7 linked regions of the Homo sapiens genome follow. The protein of the gene in region 1 purifies or fractionates together with the protein of each later gene. This does not show direct contact. Each region holds a gene or a part of one and is shown in the gene's direction. Other genes may lie near its edges. The genes, in order: USP46, CHORDC1, NAPG, ME2, HEBP1, OXSR1 and PGM1.

What was found.
Region 2: the proteins of USP46 (region 1) and CHORDC1 purify together in Homo sapiens (co-immunoprecipitation; one large-scale study listed by IntAct). This does not show direct contact.
Region 3: the proteins of USP46 (region 1) and NAPG purify together in Homo sapiens (co-immunoprecipitation; one large-scale study listed by IntAct). This does not show direct contact.
Region 4: the proteins of USP46 (region 1) and ME2 purify together in Homo sapiens (co-immunoprecipitation; one large-scale study listed by IntAct). This does not show direct contact.
Region 5: the proteins of USP46 (region 1) and HEBP1 purify together in Homo sapiens (co-immunoprecipitation; one large-scale study listed by IntAct). This does not show direct contact.
Region 6: the proteins of USP46 (region 1) and OXSR1 purify together in Homo sapiens (co-immunoprecipitation; one large-scale study listed by IntAct). This does not show direct contact.
Region 7: the proteins of USP46 (region 1) and PGM1 purify together in Homo sapiens (co-immunoprecipitation; one large-scale study listed by IntAct). This does not show direct contact.

Annotation. Positions count from the first base shown.
Region 1 is NC_000004.12:52,649,084-52,653,297, reverse strand, and holds part of USP46 (ubiquitin carboxyl-terminal hydrolase 46), read left to right. Parts: intron 1-4,214. UniProt on the Homo sapiens protein: Deubiquitinating enzyme that plays a role in behavior, possibly by regulating GABA action. May act by mediating the deubiquitination of GAD1/GAD67.
Region 2 is NC_000011.10:90,209,086-90,213,299, reverse strand, and holds part of CHORDC1 (cysteine and histidine-rich domain-containing protein 1), read left to right. Parts: intron 1-1,981; coding exon 1,982-2,085; intron 2,086-2,705; coding exon 2,706-2,764; intron 2,765-4,214. UniProt on the Homo sapiens protein: Regulates centrosome duplication, probably by inhibiting the kinase activity of ROCK2. Proposed to act as co-chaperone for HSP90. May play a role in the regulation of NOD1 via a HSP90 chaperone complex. In vitro, has intrinsic chaperone activity.
Region 3 is NC_000018.10:10,535,879-10,540,092, forward strand, and holds part of NAPG (gamma-soluble NSF attachment protein), read left to right. Parts: intron 1-3,054; exon of another isoform or gene 3,055-3,093; coding exon of another isoform or gene 3,094-3,096; intron 3,097-3,883; coding exon 3,884-3,993; intron 3,994-4,109; coding exon 4,110-4,176; intron 4,177-4,214. UniProt on the Homo sapiens protein: Required for vesicular transport between the endoplasmic reticulum and the Golgi apparatus.
Region 4 is NC_000018.10:50,923,646-50,927,859, forward strand, and holds part of ME2 (NAD-dependent malic enzyme, mitochondrial isoform 1 precursor), read left to right. Parts: intron 1-452; coding exon 453-567; intron 568-2,110; coding exon 2,111-2,253; intron 2,254-4,214.
Region 5 is NC_000012.12:12,982,887-12,987,100, reverse strand, and holds part of HEBP1 (heme-binding protein 1), read left to right. Parts: intron 1-2,458; exon of another isoform or gene 2,459-3,757; intron 3,758-4,214.
Region 6 is NC_000003.12:38,248,323-38,252,536, forward strand, and holds part of OXSR1 (serine/threonine-protein kinase OSR1), read left to right. Parts: intron 1-1,643; coding exon 1,644-1,696; intron 1,697-3,080; coding exon 3,081-3,149; intron 3,150-4,005; coding exon 4,006-4,070; intron 4,071-4,214. UniProt on the Homo sapiens protein: Effector serine/threonine-protein kinase component of the WNK-SPAK/OSR1 kinase cascade, which is involved in various processes, such as ion transport, response to hypertonic stress and blood pressure.
Region 7 is NC_000001.11:63,648,722-63,652,935, forward strand, and holds part of PGM1 (phosphoglucomutase-1), read left to right. Parts: intron 1-2,947; coding exon 2,948-3,131; intron 3,132-4,214. UniProt on the Homo sapiens protein: Catalyzes the reversible isomerization of alpha-D-glucose 1-phosphate to alpha-D-glucose 6-phosphate. The mechanism proceeds via the intermediate compound alpha-D-glucose 1,6-bisphosphate.

The DNA of each region.
Region 1 (4,214 bases):
CTGACCTCAGGTGATCCGCCCGCCTCAGCCTCTCAAAGTGCTAGGATTATAGGTGTGAACCACTGTGCCCTGCCACGAAAACATTCTTGAGACGAACTCTGTGTTAGCGAACAACCCTAACAGTAAAGGGTTTTTGGAATATTTCTCTTCTGGGACTATGGCTTGAAGTTTGAGGGATGCTGTAAGTGCTGTACATGGAAGTTTACCCCAATTCTCAGAATGATTCTTTGCAATGGATAGTTTTAAGATCATGGTGATGGGACTCTGTGGTCGCCAAAGCTTCACTTTACCCTCATAGGGCCAACCTTCCTTTTCTTCCTCAAGTTCCAATGTCACTTTTAGAACCCTCAGATACTTTTTAAATTAGCTCAGACTTTGCCTTTTTTTCTGAGTGATGGTGAATTTTAGACATACAGAAATGTGGAATAATAGAGTGAATACTCGTGTACTCCCCACCCAGTGAAGAAATAAAATACTATATATACATTTAAAACCACCTATGAGTCCTTCCTGATCTCATTGCCTCTCCCCACAGAGTGACCACTATTCTGCATTTAGTGTTTATTGTATATTTTTATATTTTTACTAGATTTGTATGCATTCATAAACTAGATATAGTGTATTTTTTCATGTTTTAAACATGCTTTATAATATTAAACATTCCTCTCAGTTTGCTTTTATTGTTTAAATTGTGATTTTGCTATTTATCCATTGAGAGACACATAATCCTAGTTTATTTTAACTGCTGTATAACATTCCATTATATAAATATGCTATGACACATTCATTTTAATGTTGTAAGCAGGTTTACAAATTTGTGAGTGTGCTGTTTTAATGCAATGAACAGTTGTGAACTCATCTCCCTGTGTATAGTATACACAGTTGACAGTTGACAGTTTCTCTGTGGTGTAAACCTGGAAGGGAATTGCTGGGTCAAAGGAATTTGATCGTCTTCTTTAATAAGTTGCCTGATTGCTCTCCAAAGAAGTTATGCCAATTTGCATTCCAACCAAGCAGCGTTTGGGGGTTCCAGTTGCTTCACATGTTTGCAGATATTTGATATTGCTAGACTTGATGTTTTGCCAGTCTGATGGGTGTGACATTGTGCCTTTGTGGTTTAAAATTTGCACTTTTCCTGTTTGCTAGGGGAGGTTGAACATCTTTTCATGTGTTTGTTATGCTGGTTTGTTTTCAACTCAGGGGCCTGAGAACAGTTTTCCAGGTCTTGAAAGTCAGGATTGTAGTTTTGGTTTTGTCTGAAAACAGGGACAATGAAGAAGGGACAGTGAAGAGGAAAATCAAGGAGACCAAAGCAAAAGTCATGAAAGGTAGGGATGGATTGGAAGATGCAGGTGAAAAAAATGATGACAAGATAATCACTGTGGAGGGGTGAAAACTAGTAACAAAAAGATAATAGAGTAGCACTGAGAAGATACCTTGAATTTTGAGAGTAAATTTGGGAGACCTGCCTGTGCCAGCAAGGCCTTGTTCAAGCCACATTTGCTTTGTTTAATTGACATTGGCTTTAGTGAAAATCGTGTCTGGGGCCTGTTCTGGTGAGAACAGCAGCAAAGCTGGACTTGCAGAGTTTTCCTGTTTACCCAGTTGCTTTTTCAAGTTCTTTTAGAAAGGCATTGTGAAACGATGGTCATCTTCCTAAAATACATTTCTCTGTCCTTCAGGTTAGGTACACAGTGCAGGAAAATTTTTATCTGGATCTGCTTGAATATATACTGGTGGAATTACTGTCTTAAATATTTAGAAAGTATTCTCTACACTTCATTTTAATTTTCAGAGTATGATGAGTATTACCTCATTAAACAAAGAAATGTATGGTTTTAGGTTCTTTGGTGTACCAAAGAATGGTTCCCACATGTGCATTCTCTTATTAAAAATTTAGACTCTGGGGTTCAACACCCAGAGAGTTTGATTAAGTAGGTCTTAGTTGGGGCTCTGGAATCTGCCTTTTAAATTAGTGTTCCCTCCTCCTTCTACTCCCTCCACATTCTGTTATAGGTGAGCTGAGGACCATGCTTGGAGAAATATTGCTTCCCTTGGGTAATAACCTCAGCCTCTTAAAAAATATTGCTTAAGAAATTACCTGCCATGTGAAAGTTTTTAAAAAAATGAATGTAAAATTATTTAAGCTAGTAACTTAACTTTTTCTGTTCTTTTTTCTCTTTCTTTCTTTTTTTTTTTTTTTTTTGAGATGGAGTCTCACTCTGTTGCCAGGCTGGAGTACAGTGGCATGATCTCAGCTCACTGCAACCTCTGCTTCCAGGTTCAAGCGATTCTCCTGCCTCAGCCTCCTGAGTAGGGTACTACAGGCACGTGCCCCCTTGCCCAGCTAATTTTGTATTTTTAGTAGAGACAGGGTTTCACCATGTTGCCTGGGATGGTCTTGATCTCTTGACCTCGTGATCCGCCCACCTTGGCCTCCCAAAGTACTGGGATTACAGGCGTGAGCCACTGCACCCGGCCAACTTAACTTTTTCTTGGTATTAAATAGCCAGGTTTTGTATTAGTTTATATATTCAGAACAGAGATTTTCAGCACTGGCTTTATATCATATCACCTGTGAAGCTTTTAAAAGAAATTTTAAAAATAATAATTAAATCACAAAACATTAACATACAAAAAAGCATGAAAAAATAATGTTATATATGTTTACCTACCCTTCAGATTTAACAGATATTAAAATGTAGCCATATTTGGTTACTTTTATTTTTAGACATATTACTGTAAAAACAGCACTAACTCTTTTTAGACTCTTTTACCTTAAAAACAGACACTAACTCAACCCAATCTCTTTCCTTTCTCTTCCTCCCAGAGCAAACCATTTTCCTGAAGTTGATATGGTGTTTACCAAACATGTCTTATACTTTACTTTGTATTTATGAATTCATAAGCAATGGATTGCAACGTTTGTGTGTGGATAAAATCGTGTAGCTTTTTGCAACTGTCTTTCTTTACTCAACAAGTATATTTGAGATTATGTCAACACATAGAGGTCGAGTTTATTCATTCTGACTGCTCTGTAACAGGATTCTTTGACTTAACCATGGTTTACTTATTCATTCTCTTATTTAGGGGCAGTTTGGTAGTTTCTACAATATTCTCTCTGGAAACAGTGTTGCAGCGAATGTTCTTGCTTCTGTCTTCTTTGCTCAGGTGTCTTCATTTCTTTAGGGTATAATCCTGGAAGTCAATATGCTGCTTTTAGGATGCGCCCATCTGCAGCTTTGCTAGGTGTGTCAAATTGCTCTCCAAAGTGGTTCCACCAATTGGAGCTTTATTGACATGCAGTTTCTAGGGTCCCAGTCTCCAGCGTTTCTGACAGTATGTAGATATAGGTAGTCTGGGGTGAATTTTAGGCACCTGCGTGTGTATGTGTGTGTGTGTATTTTAAGTGCCACAGTTGATTCCGATGTGAGCATCCAAGGTTGATAAACCACCATGTTAGACTGACAACTCTATGAGGGCAGGAACTGTATTTATTTGTATTATTCAGTGTTGATTTCCCAGCTGTCAGCACAGTGCCTAGCACATATGTGGTTGGTGCTCAATAAATAAATATTGATAAATGAATGAAGGGATGTAATTTGGTAGAATGGAAGAATTGCCTTGGAGTAAAGCAGTATGCCTCCAATTTTATCATGCATAGGCATTAGCTGGAGGTCTAGTTGAAATGTCAATTTGGATTCAGCACGTCTGGGGCAGGGCGGAGATTTTGCACTTCTAACAAACTCTCTGGTGGTACAGATAATGCTGGTTTCGGGACCATTTTTAGAGCAGCAAGGCTTTGGGAAAAACAAAACAACTTCTATTTTCCATATAGTTGTAAAGTGGAGGAGTTTGGAATTCAGAATCCTGTTTGGTAAATCTCAGATCCTATTTATCTTTTTACAACAAAGGTAGTCAATGAAATACCTTCTTTAAAGCTTTTTGGGGAGCATCAGAAGAGATCCTGCCCATGGAAGCACTGTGTGAGCTATGATGCCTTCATGCTTGTTAGTTTTCATAATTATTCTCACTCTTTTAGTTCATCATTATTTTCCTTCTGTTTGCTCAAAGTGCAAAGCTGTTGGTATTTCAGGATCCAGTGAAATTCTACTTCCATTTTGACCTGCTGTCCACATTTAGTGGGGCACTTTGGGAGGAGTGACATTGGGGAAGGAAGTTGGCAAAAGCAGAGGCCAAATTCACAGCATGGT
Region 2 (4,214 bases), on another chromosome or scaffold:
TGCTATGAACTCATGATTTTCCCTTTATTCTCCTTTGATCCTACTTAAATAAATTTATAGAGTATTGAATAATATAGAACCAAGATAAGAACCCTAAGAGACTTTAGATGTTTATTTGTTCATTAGCACTCTGAGTACAGATTATTGCTAAGGAAACTACTCAGGATGATTTTATTCTCTCTCCATCTTCATAGTTAGAGGAGACCATTGAATGCTTTGGCCAGTTTAGCAGTTAGAAAAATAATTGGGAAAAGACAAAACTTCAGTCATGGCTCATTCTTAATCTCTTTAGTAATATAATACAGTCTGTACTATAATAGTATGAGTTAATTTTTTCTTTAAATGATGGGCTGTTATTTTACTTAAAGGGCAGTGAGAGGCCAGGCACTGTGGCTCAAGCCCATAATCCAGCACTTTGAGAAGCCTAGGAGGGAGGATCCTTTGAGCCTAGGAGTTTGAGAACCAATCTGAAAGAGATCCTGTCTCTCCAAAAAAAATAAATTAGCTGGGTTTGGTGGTGTGCTCATGTAGTTGCAGCTACTCAGGCTGAGGCAGGAGGATCTTGAGATTGACTTTTTGAAAAAAAAGGACAAAGGCAGTGAGATGAGAAAAACTAAATATTTTATCCTAAATTCATTTGGTGGTATTATAACAATTATGAGGATATCAGTTTTTACATACTTTTCTTTTTTTTAAGAAGAAAAGTCCCTCTCTTACCCAGGCTGTAATGCAGTGGCATTATAGCTCACTGCAGCCTTTAACTCCTGGGCTCAAGCCATCCTCCTCCCTAACCCTCCCCGGAACTATAGGTGTATGCTACTATGACTGTATTAGTCCATTTTCACAGTTACGAAGAAACACCCGAGACTAAGTGATTTATAAAGAAAAAGAGGTTTAATGAACTCACAGTTCCATATGGCTGGGGAGGCCTCACAATCATGGCAGAAGGTAGAGCGAGTAATAAAGGAATGTTTTACATGGTGGCAGGCAAGAAAAAAACCATCAGAACTTCTGAGACTTATTCACTATCATGAGAACAGCATGGGAAAAAGGCATCCCCATGATCCAGTTACCTCCCACTAGGTCTGTCACACACCATGTGGAGATTAGGGGAGCTAGAATTCAAGATGAGATTTGGTTGGTGACACAGGGAAACCATATCAGTGACCGACTAATATTTTTTATTATTTTGCGGAGACAGGGTTCCACTTTGTTGCCCAGGCTTCAAGCAGTCCTCTTGCCTCAGCCTCCCAAAGTGTTGGGATTATGGGCATAAGCGACCATGCCTTGCCTATGTACTTTTAAAATGCCTCTTTTGTCAGTTTTTTCATCGAGGATATAGAATGAATAGCCTACGATTTTTATTTTTATTGCTGTGTTTATTAATATGTTTAATACTTATTTATTGAGTGGACTTAAATTATGTATACAACACTTAGCCATTATGAAATGTTAGAAGATGTTGTTTTTTAAACCCTACTGAAATTGCCTTGCAATACGATCGTATCTGAATTTACAGATCCATATGCCAGTGTCCACATAAATTATCTCCACTGGTAGAAGTGAGTATGGATTCACTTAGAACTTACTTATATTTCATGTTTATTATGTGCTCAGCATTGAGCTTGGGCATGGGATGTAAAAGTACATTATGGTCCCTTCCTCAGCATTACTCATCTTGAAAACCTTGGATTCCTAGTCTTTATTCCTTTCTCGTTAGTGCAACTGATTAATACTTAAATATGCTGACAATAGCGTGATTATTTGAGACTTACTATTCTAATATAAGGAGCTTTTCTGTTAAGACAGAATGTAGATACATTGTAACAATTATTTATAAAATACCTTTTAACCTTTTAATGGGAATCATTTGATACACAAAGCATTTGGCTTCTCAGAAAGCTTTTAAGGTTATTAATTTGGAGTACAAAGAAATATTTTGGTATATTAATAATGGTAATAAGGTTTCAAAATTCTCCAGCCCAGATGAACCAATGACAAATTTGGAATTAAAAATATCTGCCTCCCTAAAACAAGCACTTGATAAACTTAAACTGTCATCAGGGAATGAAGAAAATAAGAAAGGTAAGATTTTATTTTGTTTTATTGTTAATTATTTTCTGGTACAGTTAAGCAGTTATCCAAAAGAGAGAATAGTAGTTTACTGCATATAAATAGGGAAAAGTCGCACATTGTAGTTAAGAAACTTTTTCTTCTAAATGTCAGATATGATAAACTACAAATACTTCAGAACCTAATAGGTTAATTCCATATGTCTTTATTCAAAACGAGAACCTATATTAAATTTTTTTTCTTTTATGGTTCATTATTTTTTTAAGAATCAGCTAAATTTCTTTGATATTTTAAAATGTTTTCTTGTACATTATACAAAATATATTCACTATTCTCTGACTTTATACCTGGTACCATGGGAGGAAAACACCCTTTCATGATTTATTTTACAAAGTTAAGATACTGGATATAACATTTTGTTATGGAAAAAATTGTGTCCTGCATTGTTGAAGACACCAGGTCCTCAAAAGAAGAAGAAATGTGTCATATATCAATTTGGGGATATAAGCAAATCCTAGTCACAGTCGTTTTCTAAAAAGTATTGTTTTCTGGAAAAACCTAGTTTTTAAGAATGATGCCACAGCGAAGTTCTATTTTAACTTTTTAATTTGATTTTTTTTTCTTTGTTACAGAAGAAGACAATGATGAAATTAAGATTGGGACCTCATGTAAGAATGGAGGGTGTTCAAAGGTATATATCACAAGATTTGTGATGTGTTATGAAGTAAAATTTTAATTTTGAGGAAAGTGCAGTTTGCTGACTCAATTCAACAAACATTTGCATGCATATTATATATTGAACATTATGCTGGGGACTAGGGCTACAATCATGGATAAGAGACTCTGAGTAGCATCATGTCCAGTAGAATAATGAAAATAAGTAATTCCAATTCACTTAACATTTACTGAGCACTTATTATGTGCCAGACATTTTATGGGCTGGAGACATAGTATCAAATAAAGCAAACATTTCTTTTCTTATGGAGCTGATATTCTAGAATGGGGAGAAGAGCAACAAATAGGTAGTTAGATATTACAAAATCAGGATGATAGGAAGAAAATAAAACATACTAAGGAGTGCTTATCAGCAAAGCCCTTCTTGACATAGTAACACTAAATCAGAAATCTTCATGTTGCACTGGATGGATTATGTAAACCTGGGTGAAGAGTGTTCTGGATGCAGTAACATGAGCAGAGGCTTTAGAACTTGGCTATTCAAGGAATAACAAGGTCTGTGGAGCTTGGGCAAGGGTAGCAGGTAAGACAGGTAGACAGAATTATGGTGGTTCTTTTAAGCCATGATGAGGTATTTGGGCTTTATTCTAAGTATTAGGAGAAGCTATTACTTGCTTTAGGGAAGGGTTTTAGAAAGATTCTGTGACTGGTGAATGGTAAATACATGGTGATGCAGCAGGAGTGGAATTGGAAGAAGAGAAACCAGCTAGGATGCTATTGTGGAAGACCAGACAGTGGGATTGGAGAGTAGTTTGTTGAGAAGTGATTAAATGTGGGATGCGGTCAAACATACCAGTAAGCCATTTTCCTGCCTCTTGCTACTTGATATAAAACTTGCATATCCTCCAACATTTCTTCTCCCTCTCCTTTTTTCTCCATCGCTCTTAATCACTTTATATTACTTATTTTGTATACTTATTTTACTTCTGAGCTATACCATCTAACCCCCATGCTGAGTAAAAGTTGTGAGGATAGGGATTTTTTTTCTTTGTTGTATCTTGAATCCTTAGAACAGTGCGTGTAGAATGAATGATAGAATTTGAAAGTACAGAAAGTACAGATGGTTCCGAACTTACCATGGTGTAACTTAAGATTTTTTTGACTTAACAATGGTATTATCAGGCTATAACCACATTGTAAGCAAAGGAGCATCTGCCTGTATTAGCAGGATTTGCTAATGGATTCGATGTGAAGGGAATTCAAGCATCTGGGTGATTGGTGACACCATTAACCAACAAGGTGAAAATGGGGTGGGGGCAGGTTTATACTTTTTCCTCATGTTAAATTTTAGATCACTTAAGGAATGGAGATACAATTGTATTTACATGTATATGAGGTAGAAGTAGTAGATAAAAGGGAATTAGTAATTACTGGATTGGGGAAGGCAGTGCAAATGGTAGGGTAAT
Region 3 (4,214 bases), on another chromosome or scaffold:
TGGTGCCGCAAGTTAGGTTATTAACCACAGTTCCTTTGAAACCATAGAGTTTCTCTTACGGCCAAAGAAGCTGGGGATCTGCTCTGGTCTTCTTATGTCTCATTTTCCTCTGAGAATTAGGAAGCTCCCAGGTGGCTGTTACATTCTTAGTGTACTTCATGCCTGTTTAAGAAATGCTCAAACACTCTAATTCTCACAGCCTCAGTTTATATTACAACAGCTGTACTAAGACTTGAATCTTCATCAAAAGTTATTATTCAGGCATCATTTCCATTGCTCAAGTATCTATTTAATTTGAGGGTTGGAAAGGCACTACTTTGAATGAAAGAAAATTAACTTAGTGGATAGGGAAACAGATGAAGGAAAATGCTTTCTGGCATTGTCTTATATTTAAATTAAATGCCTTTGGACACTGTTGGGAGCACAGGACCCCTGAGCTACGTGGTCCACAATTCTGTGGGCTAAAATTTCTACCAATTTGTCATACAAACCTTCACACTGATTCACCAGAAAGGCTTGGGGAGTGCCATTTTGTAGACATATGCACAAGGGAAGCCACAGAAACTTGTTGGATCAACCTTTGGTTCTGTCACTTGATGACTGCTGTGATTTCATATCCTGTTTGCTCCACTGGCACACAGCCATTGAAAATAGGCATATTTATGGTGGAGGGTATAACTTTCAAGTAGGCAGCTCATCATTTTTTATGGAGAAGTATCAATATTGTGGTTGGACCTCTTACTCACAGCCTCACTTGATTTTACGCAAAAACAGGAAGATGTAGTTGCTAATTTTTAAACAACAAATAGGACTCGGATGCCATTTTTACTGCCTTCTAATGTATTTTTTGCTCTATCTACTGGGTAAAACTCATGACGAATAGTTCCTGTGGTTTTTTTATCCTCCCAAATGCTTTTATGTTGTAGATTCACATTATATATGTAATTAGTGGGTAGGTATATTTGGGGAGGAAATACAGTTGACCCTTGAACTACCCAAGGGTTGGGATGCCAACCCCTTGTGCAGTTGAAACTCTACATATAACTTTTTACTCCCCAAAAACTTTACTAATAGCCTGTTTTTGTTTTTTTTTTTTGAGACAGGATCTTGCTCTGTTGCCCAGGCTGGATTGCAGTGGCACAATCATGGCTTACTGCAGCCTCAACCTCCTGGGCTCAGGCGATCCTCCCACCTCAGCCTCCTGAGTAGCTGGGACTATAGGTGCATGTCACCATGCCCTGCTAATTTTTTAATTTTTTTGGTAGAGACTGGTTCTCGCTGTTTTTCCCAGGCTGGGCTCAAACTCCTGGGCTCAAGTGATACTTCTGCCTCAACCTCCCAAAGTGCTGGGATTATAGGCGTGAGCCACTACCCTACTACTGACTGGAAGTCTTATAAATAATATAAACAGTCAGTTAGTACATATGTTGTATGTTGTATGGAATATGTTTTATACTGTATTCTTAGAATAAAGCTAGAGAAAAGAAAATATTAAGAAAATCGTAAGGAAGAGAAAATATATTTAGTGTTCTTTAAGTGGAAGTAGAGCATCATAGGGCTCTTCATCCTCATCATAGTCTTCACGTTTGGGCTGAGGAGGAGGAAGAGGAGGAGGAGGAAGAAGAGGGGTTGGTTTTGCTGTCTCAGGTGGCAGAGGAGCAAGACAGTCTGCGTATAATTGGACCAGCACAGTTTAAATCTCTGCTGTTCAAGGTTCAGTTGTATTCTTTAAAAGCCAAAATGACCCTCAGGACTAATGTGTCTGAGAGAGATTTTGTTAGGTTTACCTCCCCTGTTCATTCAGATATTTTTCAGCAGATATTGTAGACTCGGATTCTTTCATTGACTTTTGGTTTTATAACAAAAAAAGTATTGTTTTTATTTTTTCACTGAGGTTTGGAAATGCATTAGCATTTCATTCTGCTTGAGTGAATGATAGCAGTCTTATTTCATACAGTGTCTTTCAGTCTGTGTTATTGTTAGTTTCCATAGCTAAATAATAAAGTTATGTTTTGGGGTTGGCGAAAATGAGACCAGTTTTGTTAAGGGTATCCTAATGAATTTGTCAACTTAGCAAGGGACTGAATAGGCAGATTTGTAAACCACCCATGAGATGTCAGTGTGGAGCCTACCTTAAGATACAGCAAGTCAACACTAAATAAGTTGCTTATGTAAACTTTATAACTAGCTTTTAAACGGTGTTTTTTTTTAAGTTTATTTTTAAAATGTTTGATTTGGAGATATTAGACATTAGGACTGCATGATCCTGAGATGTGTAGATTAATAGTAAGATACAGAATTTATTAGTCATGGAAGAGGGTTGCAAACTCAGATGAACTCAGGGTGTAGAGGAATAACTAAAATGAATGAGCAGCTGGGACGTGGAGGGCATTTGGAAGTGAAGAGCGGGGAGAAGCGCCAGGAGGTGCATGCTCATGTGGCGGGACAGTGCTGCCCAGCCCCAGCCTGTTGCCATACAGGGATGCAAGCCTGCTGATGCCGTAGCTTTTGATATTTTTTTGAAGAAAGCCATAAAACAATTTTCATGAAAGTATCTAATTTAAAAATACTGCATGGATCAAGCAAAACACACTTGGAAGTGAGATAGAGTCATTGGGCTGCCAGTTTGTGATCCTTGGCATAGGTCTTGTATGTAGTAGGGACTTGGTAAATGTTTAAAGAATAAGAAGTGCTTAGAAAACAGTAAAGAGCAAGGTTTTTGGTTTTTTCTATTTTCATAGATTTCCCAAAGGTCTGTGAAGTGATGATGAACTCTGTGTAGAAATTACCTGGTACCTTTTTGATTGGGTTTAATGAAGCTTGATTGGGAGAGTAATCATGTGAAGCATTTCATTTTAAATATCTTTATTGCTATACAATGTATTTGAGTCATTTACTTTCATGAATTAGGGATAAAATAATTGTATTTCATATCCTTTGCCCACTTTTTGATTGGGTTTTTTTTTTCTTGTAAATTTAAGTTCCTTGTAGAAAAAGAAGACATACAGCCAAGAAACATGAAAAACAGCTCATCATCATTGATCATTAGAGAAATGCAAATCAAAACCACAATGAGATCTCACGCCAGTCAGAATGGTGATGATTAAGAAGTCAGGAAACAATAGATGCTGGCCAGGCTGTGGAGAAATAGGAAAGTTTTTATACTGTTGGTGGGAGTGTAAATTAGTTCAACCGTTGTGGAAGACAGTGTGGGGATTCCTCAAGGATCTAGAACCAGAAATACCATTTGACCCAGCAATCCCATTACTGGGCATATGCCCAAAGGAACATAAATCATTCTATAGAAACGTATGTTTATACAGTAAACACGTATGTTTATTGTAGCACCATTTACAATAGCAAAGACATGGAACCAACCCAAATGCCCATCAGTGATAGACTGGATAAAGAAAATGTGGTACATATACACCATGGAATACTATGCAGCTGTAAAAAAGAATGAGATCATGTCCTTTGCAGGGACATGGATGAAGCTGGAAGCCATCATTCTTGGCAAACTAACAAACACAGGAACAGAAAACCAAACACCGCATGTTCTCACTCATACGTGGGAATTGAACCACAAGGACACATGGACACAGGGAGGGGAACATCACACTCCTGGGCCTGTCGGGGGCTGGGGAATAAGGGGAGGGAGAGCACTAGGACAAATACCTAATGCATGCGGGGCTTAAAACCTAGATGATGGGTTGATAGGTATAGCAAACCACCATGGGACATGTATACCTATGTAACAAACCTGCACATTCTGCACATGTGTCCCAGAACTTAAAATAAAAAATAATTGCATTTCAGATTGTTAACTCTGTTTTTCTTTAATTGATGCATTTGCTGACCTGTCTACTGTATCCTTTGCCCAAAGGAGATGCAGAAACTACCAGAGGCCGTTCAGCTAATTGAGAAGGCCAGCATGATGTATCTAGAAAACGGCACCCCAGACACAGCAGCCATGGCTTTGGAGCGAGCTGGAAAGTGAGTGTGAGATGGACAAGTCTCTGCATAGAAGTCTTGTCTTTTTGTTTTAAAGAGGTCCCTGAAAAACAAGTTTTCCATTTCTCATATAAGACATGTTTTCTTGTCTGATTCAGGCTTATAGAAAATGTTGATCCAGAGAAGGCTGTACAGTTATATCAACAGACAGCTAATGTGTTTGAAGTAAGTTTGAATCTTATTTTTTTCTTTAATTACTTAGA
Region 4 (4,214 bases), on another chromosome or scaffold:
GGAGGCTGAGGTGGGAGGATCACCTGAGCCCGGGGAGGTAGAGGCTGCCACTGCACTCAAGTCTGGGCGACAGAGTGATACCCCATTTCAAAATAAATAAATCAAATTAAATTAAATATGAAAATTTCTTAATTCCAAAACTCATCTACCCCAGATAAAGGACTGTAGGCTTTTGTGCCACATTGGACTTAGGAAGACCTCATAGTGTAAATGCATTTTTGAGAGGAACTAGAAAGTTTCTAGGAATAATGGTAGATTTGATTTTTGTTTTATATTTGAGTTTATGGACATGATGAAGATAGAGTTGGAAGGTATGGGTTGAAGAGGAAAGTAAATGAAAATGAAAAGACATTTCTATTGTAGAAACAATGTGTAACTCATAATGATGTCTTTTTATTTCATCTTTAATATGCATTGACTAAAAAAATACTGTATTTTATCTCAAAATTTAGGGACGGAAAGCAAAAATAGATAGTTATCAGGAACCATTTACTCACTCAGCCCCAGAGAGCATACCTGATACTTTTGAAGATGCAGTGAATATACTGAAGCCTTCAACTATAATTGGTAGGTAAAGTTTTTCTGATAAATAATTTTACTCCCTAACTGTATGTTGCCAGTCATCATTACCATGTAGGATTACTAAAAATGAATTGGCAGTTTTACCTAGCTTTCAGCATGTACAATGTTTTCTGTGATAACTTTTTGGTTACCATGCATGAAATTCAGTTACCAGATGTTGCTTTATACTTTTAGGTCCTAGACACTGTGTAGTCGATCATGATTTGCTTTTAGAGTTGGTATGACTGTTGGACTCAAAACATGAAAAAAACCAAAGCCATTTGCAGATTTTACCAGGAAAATTCTATGCAGACTCAAAGTTTTCGTGGGCAACAAAGCTGAAAACTTTGAGTGTGTTTTGAATCAGGCATTGCATAGATGCCATCAGACTATGTCATCATGGCATTACATTCTCAGCAGAAAATGTAAAAGTGTTTAAAAGAGGAGCTATTTAATTTGCTGTATAGCTGTAAGTTTTTTTGTTTTCTTGTTTTTTGTTTTTTTTTTTGAGACAGAGTCTCACTCTGTCACTCAAGCTGGAGTTGGCTCACTGCAACTTCCACCTCCCGGGTTCAAGCAATTCTCTTGCCCCAGCCTCCCAAGTAGCTGGGATTACAGGTACCCGCCACCACGCCCAGCTAATTTTTGTAATTTTAGTAGAGATGGGGTTTCACCATGTTGACCAGGCTGGTCTTGAACTCCTGACCTCAGGTGATCCACCTGCCTCGGCGGGTGAGACTCCATCTCAAAAAATAAATAAATAAAAATAAACAACCCCCCATTTTCCCCACTCCCCACCCCCTAACAACCACCATTCTACTTTTTGTCTCTATGAATTTAACTACCTCATATAAATGGAATGACATGGTATTTTTCTCTTTGTGACTGGCTAATTTTATTTAGCATAATGTCAAGTTTCATCCATGTGGTAGCAAGTTTTATCTTCCCAATTAGAGTGATGAAGATAGTCATATACTCTTTTTAAAAATTGGTTGGGCATGGTGGCTCACACCTGTAATTCCAGCACTCTGGGAGGCCGAGGCAGGCGGATCACCTGAGGTCAGGAGTTTGAGACTAGCCTGGCCAACATGGCAAAACCCCATCTCTACTAAAAATACAAAAATTAGCCGGGCGTGGTGGCACACACCTTTAATCCCAGCTACCTGGGAAGGTGAGGCACGAGAATCACTTGAACCCAGGAGGGAGAGGTTGCAGTGAGCTGAGATTGTGCCACTACACTCCAGTCTGGGCGACAGAGCGAGACTCTGTCTCAAAAAACAAAAAGTTAAAAGAATAAAATTTCCCATAATTTACTATGTGTATAGTAGACAATAAATATTTAAGTGAGAACTTTCAGCATCTTACTGTTTTTTCTTTTCAGATTTGAGATTGTGTTCTCATAGATTTTGCATTGCTGAGATAGTGCTATCTTTGTAATGAGATATTACCTGTGTTTTTATTATTGTAGGCCTATTGTAGAAATGCTATTGATAAGCATTGCTTTTATACCTATAATGAAGTTGCTGTTTTTCCCCCTTACTTATTACAGGAGTTGCAGGTGCTGGCCGTCTTTTCACTCCTGATGTAATCAGAGCCATGGCCTCTATCAATGAAAGGCCTGTAATATTTGCATTAAGTAATCCTACAGCACAGGCAGAGTGCACGGCTGAAGAAGCATATACACTTACAGAGGTATTAATAATCACATGAATTGATATGTATATTATTTTCCCTCCACTAGCTTATTAGTTATACATTCTTACACCATTGTTCTAATGGTTTCCCTAGAGATTACAGCATGCATCTATGGGTGATCAAAGTCTGATATTAATTATTGCTTATACCAATTATGGGAAACAGGTACTTTATAACTCCACTGTAATGCCCTCACACTGTTTGCACTATTGTTGTGAATTTTAATTTTCTATGTATTTTAAACTCAAAATACATTATTGTTATATTTTACAAAAATTATTCAGATTTACCTACACTTTAATTTATTTATCACTATTCTTCCTGCAAGTGCTTCTACCTAGGATCATTTTCCTTCTACCAGAAGAATTCCTTTATTTAAGTGTAGGTCTAATGAATTCTCTTGGTAATTTATTTTGCCTTCATTTTGAAGGATATTTTCACTCTGCATAGACGTAAAAGTTGGTAAATACTTGAGCATTTTGAAGATATCATTTTACTGTTTTCTGACTTTTGTTTTCTTTTTGATGATATAGCATTGTCTTAGGTTTTTAACAGTTTGACTATGGCGGACATATGCGTGGTTTTCTTTGTATTTATTCCACATGGGGATTATACTGCTCCTGAATCTATGGCTTGATGTCTGTTTTTGGTTTTTGTTTTTTCTGTTTTGAAAAAATATCAGCCAGTATCTCTACTTTGGCCACATTGTCTCTCTCATCTTATGGGACTCTAATTATATGGTTAGAGATATATCTCATTTATCTTTTACACTGTTTTCTATATTTACTATCTCTCTTGCTTTCTGTGTTTCAATCTGGTGATTTCCTTTGGCCCTATTTTCCAGTTTGCAGATTCTCTGTTCAGCTGTGCTCATCTGTTGTTAGGTTCTTAATTTTAGTTGCTGTATTTTTTCATTTGTAGAATTTGTGTTTTATCTGTATAGTAATTTATTAATTTAGTAACAGACTTAAAATCATGTACTGTAGAAATAATCAATCTCTAAATACTGCTTTCTTGTACTCACATTTCATGAAACTTTTTACTCTCTTCAAATGCATCTTCACCATCAGTGTTTGTCTTTTCTAAGGCTGTTTTTTTTGAGTCATCTGGCGCTGTGGAGAACAAATTTTTATTTACATCCGAACTGTTTAAGATTCACTACTTTTAGATCTTTGACACTACCACGGGATTATAGCCCAATTACAAATATCTGCCTATAAATCACTTGACATTTGGGTTTTTTTCCTACCATTCTGTAAGGATGTAGTTGTAATCTCCACAATTACTTTCTATATTGTTGTGGTAAGTGATCTAAGTGGCTCTAGGAAGTGATTTTTAAAGGCTTGTTTACAATGATGTCTAGCAGCTATAATTGCTAGACTACATCCTTGAGAGTAAGTAATAAATCTGATACATTTTTTTAATCTTCACTCCTTTAAAACAACGTTTTTTATAGTAGAAAAGTATTACAGTGTATCTCTCAAAAGCTAAGGATTCTTTTAAAAATATAACCACAGGGCCGGGCACGGTGGCTCACGCCTGTAATCCCAGCACTTTGGGAGGCTGAGGTGGGCAGATCACGAGGTCAGGAGATCGAGACCATCCTGGCTAACATAGTGAAACCCCGTCTCTACTAAAAATACAAAAAAAATTAGCCAGATGTGGTGGCGGGTGCCTTTAGTCCCAGCTGCTGGGGAGGCTGAGGCAGGAGAATGGTGTGAACCCACGAGGCGGAGCTTGCATTGAGCCGAGATCGCACCACTGCACTCCAGCCTGGGTGACAGAGCAAGACTCCATCTCAAAAAAAACCCCAAAAAACCATATATATATATATATATATATATATATATACACACCACAGTACTGTTATACCTCATAATTTGAACAATAATTATATCTTGTCATTTAATTTTTTTTTTTTTTTTTTTTTTGAGACAGGGTCTCTCTTGGTTGCCCAG
Region 5 (4,214 bases), on another chromosome or scaffold:
ACTCCTTGCATCACCTCTGGCAAGCATTCGCGTCAAATTTTTATGGTTGCTGAATTAATTTAAGTAGGAAATGCTGAATCCTAACAGTTTCTCATTTTAATTTCTTCAGGCTGCAGCACACACACATTTGCATTTTATCAGAATAAATGCCTTGGCCAGTTGCCAAATTGATGGGACGAGCTTAAGCTTTGCTTAAGCTTACAGTGAATGTCTACATTAGCCATAGCAGGGTTCTAGGAGACTCAGCAAATATCTTAAGTCAAGCCATGGTCTGGATTCGTGGACACATGGGAAGCATAAAGGGCTGAGGAATACCTGATTTCTACCCCACACTCCCTTTGAATGCCAGAGAGCAGGGAGCATTTGCTAGAGCTGGGCTTCCATCCTCCTTGTTGTTCCTGGATGGTAGTCCTTTGAGCAGAGCACACATCTATTCTCTTGTCATCCTGGTCCTGTTTCCAGGACTTCATGTGGGGTCATTTTCCCTTGACTGTAGAGAATAGCAGGTGCAAATGGTTACTAGTTTCTATCCCTTGTGCTCCAAACTGCCCTCAGAAACCAAGTCTTCTAGATCATTGATGACTCCTCACATTTGTTAAAACACTCCCATGTGACAGGCACCAAACCAGGCTCAGGGAAAGACCAGGATCTTCACCAGAAGTAATCATAGGTGGTTTGGCTCCGCTCAGGAGCAACCTCATGAAAAATTCACATACATATAATATTGCACTGGACTGAGTATTGGTCCACTTCAGGGACCTCCAAACTTGGCTGCCCTGCTGCAACCCTGAACCTGATGGTGGGACCATTTTCCCCGGAGCTGTGTCAATGTTCTGAGAATGTGAGTTTCACCGCTGTGTGTAGTCCTAGGCCAGGTGACTGCAGGGCCCTCCAGAGGACAGTGAATGTAATGCAGCTGGGAGCTAGCACCGGAGCCTCAGCTCCTGTGCTTGTCCTGCAGTCCTCATTCAGACTTCCCAGCTTCCCTTCAGAGGGTGTGGAGAAAGCAAATTAACTTAACAATATCTTTTCCTAGGGTGGAGATGCACCTTGGGTGCAGCATTTAAGGAAGCACTCACTCTCACAGCTGTCCAAGTGCAGGATGGGGACTGAGAGTGAGCGCCTCCTTAAATCTTGTGCCCTGGGTTAGATGTCTGCTTGTCTTTTCCATTCTATTTCCTGTGTTTGGGAAGCAGCAGGTATAATAAAATGAACTTGTATTTTATTTGAATTCCAGCTCTACTGCTTACTAGCAGAATGATGCTTGGGAAGTTAGCCACTTTAAGACTTAGCTTTTGCATTTGTTAAGTGCTGATAATATAACCTCCTATATATGATGTGTGTGTGTGTGCATGTAATGTAACCTTATAGGATTATTGTTAAATATCTTTCAGTATTTACTAAGATACTATTTATGTATTACCTAATGTTTATGACCTGAAGCAGGTTTTGGCAATTACCCCTTCTGTCTGTTCATTCTTATTTCATAAGGAATGAGATAGACATGATTGAATCAGTTCACATTAAGACTTCAAGCAGATGGGGCTAGTTTCTGATCATTTGTTTTACCAGACCCTGAGTAATGAGTGGATATAATTTTTTTTTCTTTTGTCTTTAACTTTTTAGTATGGGAATTTTCAAACTTATAGAAAGGTAGAAGCATATAAGATCATGAAATCATATGTGCCCATCCCCTACCTACAGCAACGATCAGCTCAAGGCCAATTCTGTGTCATGTGTATCTTCACAGCATTCACCCAGCCCTACCCTGGATTATTTTTAGGCAAATTCCAGACATTATATTATTTCATTCATAAATATTTCAGGTAATTACTGAAGATTTTTTTAAAATATAATCACAATACCTTTTTTCTGAAATTTCAATAGTACTTCATTAATTTATAATATAAAATATTCAATGCTCAGATTTCCCCCATTACTTTTTTTTTTTTTCCAACGGAGTCTCTCTCTGTTGCCCAGGCTGGAGTGCAGTGGTGCGATCTTGGCTCACTGCAACCTCTGCTGCCTGGGTTCAAGCAATTCTCCTGCCTCAGCCTCCCAAGTAGCTGGGAGTACAGGAACCTGCCACTGTGCCTAATATTTGTAGTTTTTTAGTAGAGACAGGGTTTCACCATCTTGGCCAGGCTGGTCTTGAACTCCTGACCTTGTGATCCACCTGCCTCGGCCTCCCAAAGTGCTGGGATTACAGGCGTGAGCCACCACGCCTGGCCATCATTTGTTTTAATATTTTGTTAGAATCTGGATCCAAGTCAGATTTTGTAGTACTTTCTTTTTGTTGTTGTTGTTAAGAGACAAGGCCTTGCTCTGTTGCCCAGGCTGCAGTGCAGTGGTGTGATCATAGCTCACTGCAGCCTCAAACTCCTGGGCTCAGGTAATCCTCCCACCTCAGCCTCTCAAGTAGCTGGTACTACAGTTGCACACAACCACACCTGGCTGATGGTACATTTTTAAGCTTTTATTAATCTGTGAATTTCTTTACCAACACAACTTTACATTCTTCCTTTCCATCTGTGGATCATTTGTCTTCTTATTATCTGTACTGGATTTTGCTGATTATATTTCCGTGACATTTTACCACATCCCTCTGAGCCCCGTATTGCCTGTAAATTAGTAGTTGAAACTAAAGACTAGATCAGATTCAAGTTTTTGAAGTTTTGGTGAGAATATTTCCTACGTGGTGGTGTTTACTTCCTTCAGGGGCCCACAGTGTCTGATTGTCCCTGATTGAGTGATGTTGGTGACCATAGTTCATCATTGCCTAGATGTCTTGTTCCATTAGAGGCCATAAAACGATAATGTTCTCTGTTTCTCCTTCTTCTTTTATTACCTGCAATATTTCAGTAAAGAGAAACTTCCCCTCGTTTACTATTTGGCTTCCTTTATTTCATATAGAAAAAGCCAGATACATGCTTACTTGATACCTTCTCTTTATTTACCAGTTTTCAGAATGATAATTTCATTCTGTAACATCCTCAAGGTAAAGTGGTCTGCATCTTCGTTTTTTGAGTGTAATTATAAACATATGAATTTAAACATATTTGATACGTTTCAGTTTGTTACAGATATTATTCTTATTGATGCTCTAATTGCCCCACTGTTGGCCAGCGGGAGCCTCTTCAAGTTGGTTTGTTGGTCCTTTTGACACAGCTCCAGTAGTCGTTGATGGCTCCCTGGCTTGCTGGTATAATGAGATGTTTTGAGCACATCTTAGCATTTCTTGCCCTAGAGCTAGAATTAGCCATTTCTCTAAGGAACGCTGGTTTCTTATGGTGGGAAGGGGTATACGGGTACTATCAAAGGCAGGTCGGTGACCATTTCCTTTTAATTCTCTGAAATCTAAACAGCTGAAAGTGCCAAATGTGGTGTCTAGCCTGGCTCCATGGAATTTTTAACACGGAGTTCTCACACAGCATATGATCATTCCTCAACTCGCCACTTGATGTCACTGCATAGTCAAATGAGCATTCAAAATTACCCTGCAGTGGTTTGTGTTATTTCTGATTCTGTTGAAAGCAATGTTAATGAGATGGTAGAAGGCAAATGTACTACTTCAAATGCAAAAGTACTCTATCAAATAATGCAGTGAGTGCATTCAATGACAAAATTAATTCTAAAATGAAAGCCTGGCGTCCTTCATTCAGTCTTCCTTCTTTATGACCTTGTGAAGAGATGTTTACAAAGGGATTATACATTTATTAGCATCGTTAATTACCGGTGCTTTTAGATGAATAGAATGCTGTGAAAAAAAATAGCACTATCAGAATATGTTTAGTATTCACAAGAGGCAATAGAATTATCCTCACACTTAGACCAGCAGCAACATTCCAGACTACTGTCCTTTCTCTATGCACTTAAGTTAGAGTTTGGCCTTTTCAGCTCATTTCAGCACCAGGTTCTCAATAGGGACCAACAGCAGGAGAAGTTTGATGGTCTTAATGAAACTTTCACGGTTTAAATGAAATGTCTAGATATAAAGGAAAAAGTTGGAAACCAGGAGTTTATTTTCAGGGTAACCTATGCTCCAACCCAGTTCATCATTCAGTGGCCATAGGACCTTTGGTATATTGCCAGCCTCACTGTACCTCAGTTTCCTCATCTGTAAGATGGGCATGAGTACCTAGCTTTTATGGTGTTGTGAGGATAAAATATGATAATACCTGTAAATACCTACTCAATCCTAGACATGAGGTAGA
Region 6 (4,214 bases), on another chromosome or scaffold:
TTAACTCCCTGCCCCGCCCCCCCCGCCCCTAGCACTAGTAGCTGGATTCAAATTCCAGAGCTTTCTTGTCAGAATCACTATGGCTGTTGTATTGCTCTAGTTAGGTCTCTTTCTACTCATAAATGCATTTGAAAAAAAATTAGTATTAAAGTATCACTTGAGGCAACTCAGGCCTTTTAAAACTATTACTAACATTTTAAAAAAGAGTTCCACTGAATTACCATTAACTCATTCCCCTTGCACATATAAATTCCTAGTCATCTTTCTGTAAGGTCCTAATTGGAGATAGAGGCAGCAAGAGCTATTTAAGAGAATGTGGTAAGGAGAATCTCATTGCTCCTTGCCACTAGGAGCAATGCATTTATGCCATAAATGTGAAAAACATATTTGGTTACCTTTCCTTTACAGAAGCCTACTTAGTATACCTGGTCTCATCTCAAAAATTCTGAGTTACTAGGATGTCTTGACAACTTCATGCTGTTTTAAATCTACATAAAGAATAACACTTTAAGAAAATTATTGTGAAATGTATTAAGCACAGACTATGTATAGCACTCTTCGGTACTGTGGAAAGGTGGATACTGAGAAAAGAGAAAATTAAATGACTCCCTTAATAATCAAGTCTAGGTTGGAAGTTGATTTGAACTATGTACTTACACAGCTAAAAGCAAATTTCAGGTAGTATATACATGCAGAAGTATAAGTTTGTATGTACCTGTGTAGAAAGAACGCAATGCAAGGGAAAATCATTTGGGGCATGTTATATTTGAGATGGGTAGTTCTATTTTAAGCACAATTTCAGTAACATCCTCAAGTATATTATTCATCAAATAGAAGTAAACCCTCTCCATTATTTATATAAAATAGATTTGAGTCCTAAGTGAGCAGGCATATCTGCCCTTAGATATAGTGTTCTCATTTCTCTGTCTTTAAACAAAACCTCCAGGGATCCTGCTTAATCTCAGTGCATGGTGTGATCATCACTGTAACTGTACCTCACCAGTCAGGTTTGAATTTCTGGAGTCATATAGTAACTCTGCTACCAGTATGGACCCAATTCCTTTCCCTATCCTCTCTGCCTACCTAAATCCTGCATATCTGTTAAGTCCTATATAAAAACTACCTCTAAAATTTTTCCTTATTATCCCCATCTCTCATATATTCTTTGAATTCCTATGGAATTTGAGGGAGTATCATGTATTTCATTTTATGAGTCTGCCAAGACTGATCACCAGAGGTAGGCAATGAATTGTGGGCATGTAGGAGTGGGGATAAGGATGAAAAAGGCATCCTGTATCATTTTAATCACACCTCCCTGTGCTCATACAATTTTCCTCTTAGTTTTATATGTTCTTGGTGTGGGAATAAGGATGGGAGTGGGCATATAAGAATCTACTCAAAGGCATGAAATTTTTATATTGATCAGTAAGGGACATAGATTCAAAGGGTTGTAGGACAATTAGATGGTCATTCCGAATTGGTTTTGCTCTGAGCTCTGCAGTGTGAACATATCTGAATACATCATATGATCTATGGGAACAAAACAGACTTTCTTGAGGCACAGCTTTCTTAATATATGTTGGCAGAATCTCTTTGCATAAATTTAGAAATTCTTATTTTATGCATTCTGCTTTCTTTCATAGGAATTCCAAAAAAGAACTAAATGATATTCGATTTGAATTTACTCCTGGGAGAGGTGAGGCATCAAATGGATTGAAAACAAAATAGCTTCCAATTTGTGATTCAATGAAATGTGTTGTGAAGTTTCTGTCCTTTGTGAAGTTTTGCTTTTAAAGGATAATAAAAATTTTCCTGGTTTTGGCGAGTATATGAGTGAGATAAAAATGCAGTTCGTTGACTACTAAACACATTTAGAAAACCTTGTATAATAATACAAACAGTAATAAATATATGATAGCTCTTTACAGCTTACTATAGGCCAGGCATTGTCTTAAGCGTTATCTTATTAAATTCTCACAGCAGTCTACTAAGGAAAAATTATTATCCCCATAGTATCGATGATGAAATCAAGACTTAAAGGCAAAGTAACTTGTTCAAGGTCACACAGCTGGAAAGAGGTATAGCTGGAATTCAAACCAGATCTGTCAGAATCCAAAGTTCATTCTTTATACATGGTTGTTCTCCATGATGGTAAAGAAACAAGGTCTGCAGTCTCCTCTCTCCTCAGACAGAAGCTGAGGTCTGTCATGTACTGTTTCTGGCTGTTGAACTTCACCTTGAACAAGGTGTGTTTTGTTTCTTGCCTTTATTACTCAGTGTTCTAATTTGGGGAGTAGCCAGCAAGTATCTGTTCTGTGTATCATGCTTATTCTTCTTGCTGTCTCACTATCATGAGCAACTAACCACTAAAGAGAAAAGATGCAGGTGTACAGAGGTGTCACCTGTTTTACTTTTTAAACACCAGGCAACATCACATTTTCAGGAATTAATTCAAATTGCTGGTTGCCTGTGTGAATGTGTGGACACTGTCTCCACCGCAGTCCTCCTGTTCCCTCTGAGGGGCTCATTTTCAAGCCCTTGGCAACCAATACCACTGAGTTGGTTGAAGATGAGGTTAATTGGGGATATTCTGTCCTCATCTTTTTAGTTTCTGGTTATACCCATTGCTCAGATTGTACCACCTGGAATAACTAGATAAGAAGAAAAGCCCACCAGAATAAAAAAGTAAATGATTTTAGCAAAAAACTTGGAGTATGATTCCCAAAGAGAAGAGACAAAAATTTTTTGAGACAAAAATTGTTGCCTTAGTTTTTGAGAATAAATCATTCTGGTTTTTTAGCCCTAGAGATGTTCAGTATTCAACATCATGTCTCAGATATTTGCTACCTGGTTTATACAGATTCTGCCCTCTAGCTAGATCTGTGAGAATTCCACTTGAGATAATCTCAGTGGTAGGAAAAGTCTTTGTATGGAAGGAAGGCCCTGCCTGCCTTCTTGGTTCTGTGGATTTAGCATCCAGCTTGGGCCTAGCATGGCACACTGACACCCACATGAGCTGTGAGAGTTAACAGTGGCAAGCACGCACAAAAAACAGAGCACTGTCTTCTTTGTCCTTGCAGATACAGCAGAGGGTGTCTCTCAGGAACTCATTTCTGCTGGCCTGGTCGACGGAAGGGATTTAGTAATAGGTAACTCCATTGCGTTCTGCTCATGTGCTCCTGTGTCTCTGTCTGTATACTTAGTACATAGAAAAGCAGGTTTTTTATTCCACTGAGTAGGTCTGATGGTTCTTGAAATGGTTCTTGGCTTTCCTGAAATTATAGGTAATGGGACAGTTCCTTACACACACACAAAATTTCACCTCTGAGTTTGCTTTGTGACCTCCAATGATGGTAAGTGAAAGCACACCCAAGGTCTTTAGGAGATTAATAGAAATTATGGCAAAAGTCACAAGTTAAAGTAAGCTTGGCCATATCTGATCTGTTTTGGATACCTAATTTTTGTGGCCCAAGTTGAGCAAAAGTCATTAGAGATTTAGTACTAGAAAAGCAGGAAGGAAGAGAGAAGGCCCAGTGAGGCCACAGGTCCATGTTACTGAAGGAAAAGACCATGTCCTTAGACACAGTTTTCCGTGAAAAACCAGATAATAAATAGTTTAGGCCTTGCGGGCCATGTACAGTGTCTGTCACTTTTAAACCACTCTTAGCTTGCCGGAGAACAAAAACAGACCACAGGCTGGTTTGTTGACTTCTGGCCTTGGGCTTTCTGATCCATAAATCAGGAAATCATACCTCTTTTACCTGCATGTTTTTCCTAGGTTAATACAACATTTTAAAGAAAGTTAATTTGACAGTGGTTCAAGGTGTACTACTCAGAAATGAGTTTAAAAGACACTTTCATTAGGGGAGTGATTATTTGATCTGTCTGCTTCCATTTTGATTGTACGGAGCATATTCTTAACTACCATTTAAGCTTTTAAAATATGGTTGAAAGTGGATTTATGTAACTTCTCATTCATTACCTTCTCTGTTTGTATGATTACAGTGGCAGCTAATTTGCAGAAAATTGTGGAAGAACCTCAGTCAAATCGATCTGTCACTTTCAAACTGGTACTCATCCCTTCTTCCTTGTGAAAACATCTTGCCTTTTATACACTGGCAGCTTCTCCAGACCAGCTTCTATATCCCCTGAGTGATGAGAATATTAAAATGTGGTGGATTGTGTTCATTTAGCCTCCCCAGTGCCCTGGGCTG
Region 7 (4,214 bases), on another chromosome or scaffold:
CAGCCTCTCCTGTCTTAAGTGCTAATAAAACCCTAGGTCATCCAGCCTCTCTCAATTGGAGACTTTAAAAATAATCTGGTCAGGGATGAAATGAAGTCAATTTTTATGTCAGCCATAAAGAGTGAGGCTTTAAAAGTTTAGCTAACATAATCAAAAGAATAAATGCTTTATAAGCATTTTAAATGTGTCCATTGGGTGGACATGATCATAACATTGGATTTGGATTCAGAGAAATGGATTAGAATTTTATTTCTTCCCCTTACTAGATTGGGGAGCCATTTAGCTTTTCTCTGTACTCAGTTTTGTCATCTGTAGAAATGGGAATAACAGTCCAGCTGTTGAGAGGATTAAATGAATAATGAGTCTGAAAATGTTTTGTTAACTTTGGGGCACTGAAAGCCTAGAAACTTTTTTTCATAAATTATAGAAACAGTTATGCTTAGTCCACATCGACTTTTCTGCCTTGTGAAATAGGTCCCCAAGGGCTATATACTTGTCAATAATTTTTTTAATTTATTCAACAGATATTTACTGTATACCCGATTTCCATCGGGTACTTGGAATTCAGCAGTGAACAAAATACTTAGAATACTTAGTAATTATTCCTTATCATGCGTACTTCTATTTTTAAAAAGCATTAAAAAATTTTTGACAGTAGTACTTTTCACTAATTCCAATTTGCCTTTCCCCCAGTTAGTGTAAAAATCTAACAAGAATTTTTCTGGACCTCAGTATTCCAATTATAGAGAGAAAATATGGTAAAAAGGATATTAGATGAATTGTTTATGTATAAGAAATGAATAGGTGTAATTTCTCTGGACCTCAGTTGCCTGTTCTATAAAATGGGTGAGTTAGACTAGAGAATTTAAAAAATATATCCCAGATTTTATAGTCCGTGATCTCTGGATAGTCAAGAAAGAATTCAACTAAGTAAATTAAGCTCCTTAATCAGAATTATTTTATTAACTTTGGACGGATTCATTGATCTCTTTCTCTCTCACGTTACTGTTTTGTGGAAGGAATAAGTAATAACTACCTGACACCACACAGTAGCCCTGGGAACCAAGGCAAAAAAATCCCTACTTTATAACAGACAGAAAAACCTGGTCATTCAGAACAGCAGTCATGAACTGTCTAGAACCTAGAGTATCATAAAAACAAGGCCATGTCTGTTTTTGTGCCCTAAGCACCCAACTCATAGTAGAGACTGCATAAATACGTTTTGAACCGATAAATGAATGAGTTAACAGGTGAACAATAGCCAGAGTAGAATAAGGTTAGGAGGGGTTGTTCAGAGAAAGGGTCACACCCTTGAATTAGTCACAATCCTCCATATAAAAACTATTTTAACATGATTTTATTAATTATCAAATATAATTGCTAACCAAGTATTACAAATCAAATCCTTAGTACCTGCATTTATGATTAGTTAAAACTCCATTATACCTTCCACTTACTGAACAAAAGCGCTAGGCACTTTTGCATGCATTGTCTCACTTTAGCCTCAAAACAGTTATTGATAAGGTAGCTGAGATTCTGAGAGATAGGGCAGCTGGCCCTGTAGTCACACAATTAATAGCCAATAGAGGCTGGATTCATAGCTCATCTGTCTGATTGCAAAACCCAGACTCTTCTATTCCACCCCTCTGTGCCTAGGGTTTAGAAAACATTTCTCTGGAGTACCCAGAGGTCAAAAATGTAAAGCACAAACACCTGGTTGTAATTTCTTGTTGTTTATCATGTTAACTAGGGGAAAGAGCTGACTTTAAGATTAAGGGGACTGTTTGGCCCTTGATTCATAGAATCCTGGAGCCAGAATAGGCTGGCCTTAATTCCTCAGCATTTCTCATGTCTCAGAGGTGTCATCTTGCATATATGATATCTATTTCACGATTACAAATAAATATAGACTCTGCTATCTTGAGCTTCTAAAAAATAACTCTCTCAAGAGGGTGTATGCCACTAGGTCAAGAAAAGCCACCTGTACAAGTCTTTAACATCATAAGAAAGAAGTCAAAAAGAATTCTTGAAGGAAAACTCATCTTTATAGAATTTCATTTGTGATGCACTTTTTTCCTTGGCCCTTTTTCATCCGCACTGGGCCTCTTCTGTCAGGGTGAACCCAAAGGACCTTGGACCAAAATCCACTGCCACTGAAAGGAGGGAGGCAGAACTTAAAATAAAACAAAATTTAAAAAAAAAAATTGGGAGAGCATCAGGATAAACAGCTAATGCATTTGGGGCTTAATTCCTAGGTGATGGGTTGATAGGTGCGGCAAATCACCATGGCACATTTACCTATATAACAAACCTGCACGTTCTGCACATGTATCTTGAAACTTACTAAAATTAATGAAAAAAAAAAAGGCATTTTAGATGTAAAGAGTCAGTGTTTGGCGTCTTCATCTGGTCGGTGAAAACTTGGCCCTGCTTTAGGAAGCTCCTGTGGAGCTGGAACTCTGCTTAGTCAAAATCTCAGCAGCCTCAGGCAGGTCTCAGGCTGGGAGCAGGCCCAGCATTCACCCCAGAGAAGCCCAGGGAGCTTGGAGGAGAAGTGCCTGAGTCACGTGCTCCTTTCAAGAGAGTTCTCCAGAGATAACATTGCTTTTCATTTTACCTCCTCAGGATGTGGTGACTAAATGTTAGATAGCATCTTTCAAAAGCCTTTGAAACATCTTAGAGCTTTATTCTGTAGAAATGCCAAGATGGGTGTTTTCTGCTTATTCAGAAGCTCATAACCCTTCCCTGAAATCCTCCAAACCCTTCCTTTCATCCCTGGCCTGTTCCATCCCCAGTGACTGACAGGCCTGTATTTTTTTTGCCAGCTTCTTCTGAAGTTAGATAGTTTTGCGGGAGGGCCAAACAAATGATGAAGAAAGTGCTGACTGATAGGCCTTGGTGTGATCTGCAGTCAGCCCGTGGGCCTCAACTTCGTGACTTCTTCCAGGTATGATTACGAGGAGGTGGAAGCTGAGGGCGCAAACAAAATGATGAAGGACTTGGAGGCCCTGATGTTTGATCGCTCCTTTGTGGGGAAGCAGTTCTCAGCAAATGACAAAGTTTACACTGTGGAGAAGGCCGATAACTTTGAATACAGCGACCCAGTGGATGGAAGCATTTCAAGAAATCAGGTAGAAACAGACCGGTGTGTAAGTGAGAGAGAGACCTCAGAGCTTCATCTCTGACATCTCAAGGGAAAAATTAAAAAGTTCCTGTTGGCTATTTTTCTTTTGCTGCTGTGTTTTTCTAGGGTAGCTGTTCTTACCTGGTTTTCTGCTGTCCCACGTGACTCTCACATGCACTCGTTGGGACAGTGGTTTATGCCCTTGTTCTGTGCACTGTCCAGTACCCTCATTCTGGGATTCTTAACCTGGACTCCAGAGGGATTTTTGCACTCTCTGGAATGATATGCAAGATGATGTGTCCATTGTACATGCAGAAAGGAGCCCCAGAATCTAAGAAAGAGGGAGAACTGTGGGAACTTAGATGTCAACTCCTCTCTTTTCTGTCAGCAGATTATAGCAGAGTGACAGCATGTAAGTGGCATTATACTTATACGTTTCTCTCGTATGTTCTAATTTCTAAAGGAGAGAAAAATAGATGAGGCATTCCCAGACTTAGAAACGTTGACCATCGTCATTCGCAGCACATGAGTGGCACCCCACCTAACACAGCAGTACCTGGCAAGACGCCACAGTTTAGGACCTGGAGCATCTCTAGATGTGGACAGAATTGTTAGTGCTTCCCTTACTGTGTGCCGGGTACCCTAGGCTGCAGGCTGGGTCAGGCTTTCTCCTGGCTTCTCATGAACACTTACGCACCAGGGTTCTCTCACCTCTGCTTCTGTTGCCTGTTGTCACAGAGTAAACTCATCTCTCACAATTCATAATAGAATAAAGAGCAGGATGAAGATTCTGTTACAACCTCCCAGTTTACTTTTTTCCAATTGACCCAGATTTTTGGCCTGGTCCTTGTCAAGGCATCTCATAGGGTTTGGAAGGGCCGGGCCGTGGGATTTACTGGAGGCTTCCCTCTGGGGAGCAGGCAGTGAATGGATGGATGGGCCACAGCAACCCTCAGTGCCTGGAGTCTCCCCTCCTCAACTTCTAGCACAAGTGGTTTCTCATCCTTGTGCCTGTTTGCCATTTGTGAGAACTTGGGGTCCAGTTTGGATGATTGTAAATTATGCCTGAGATAATTAGAAGAGAGACCTG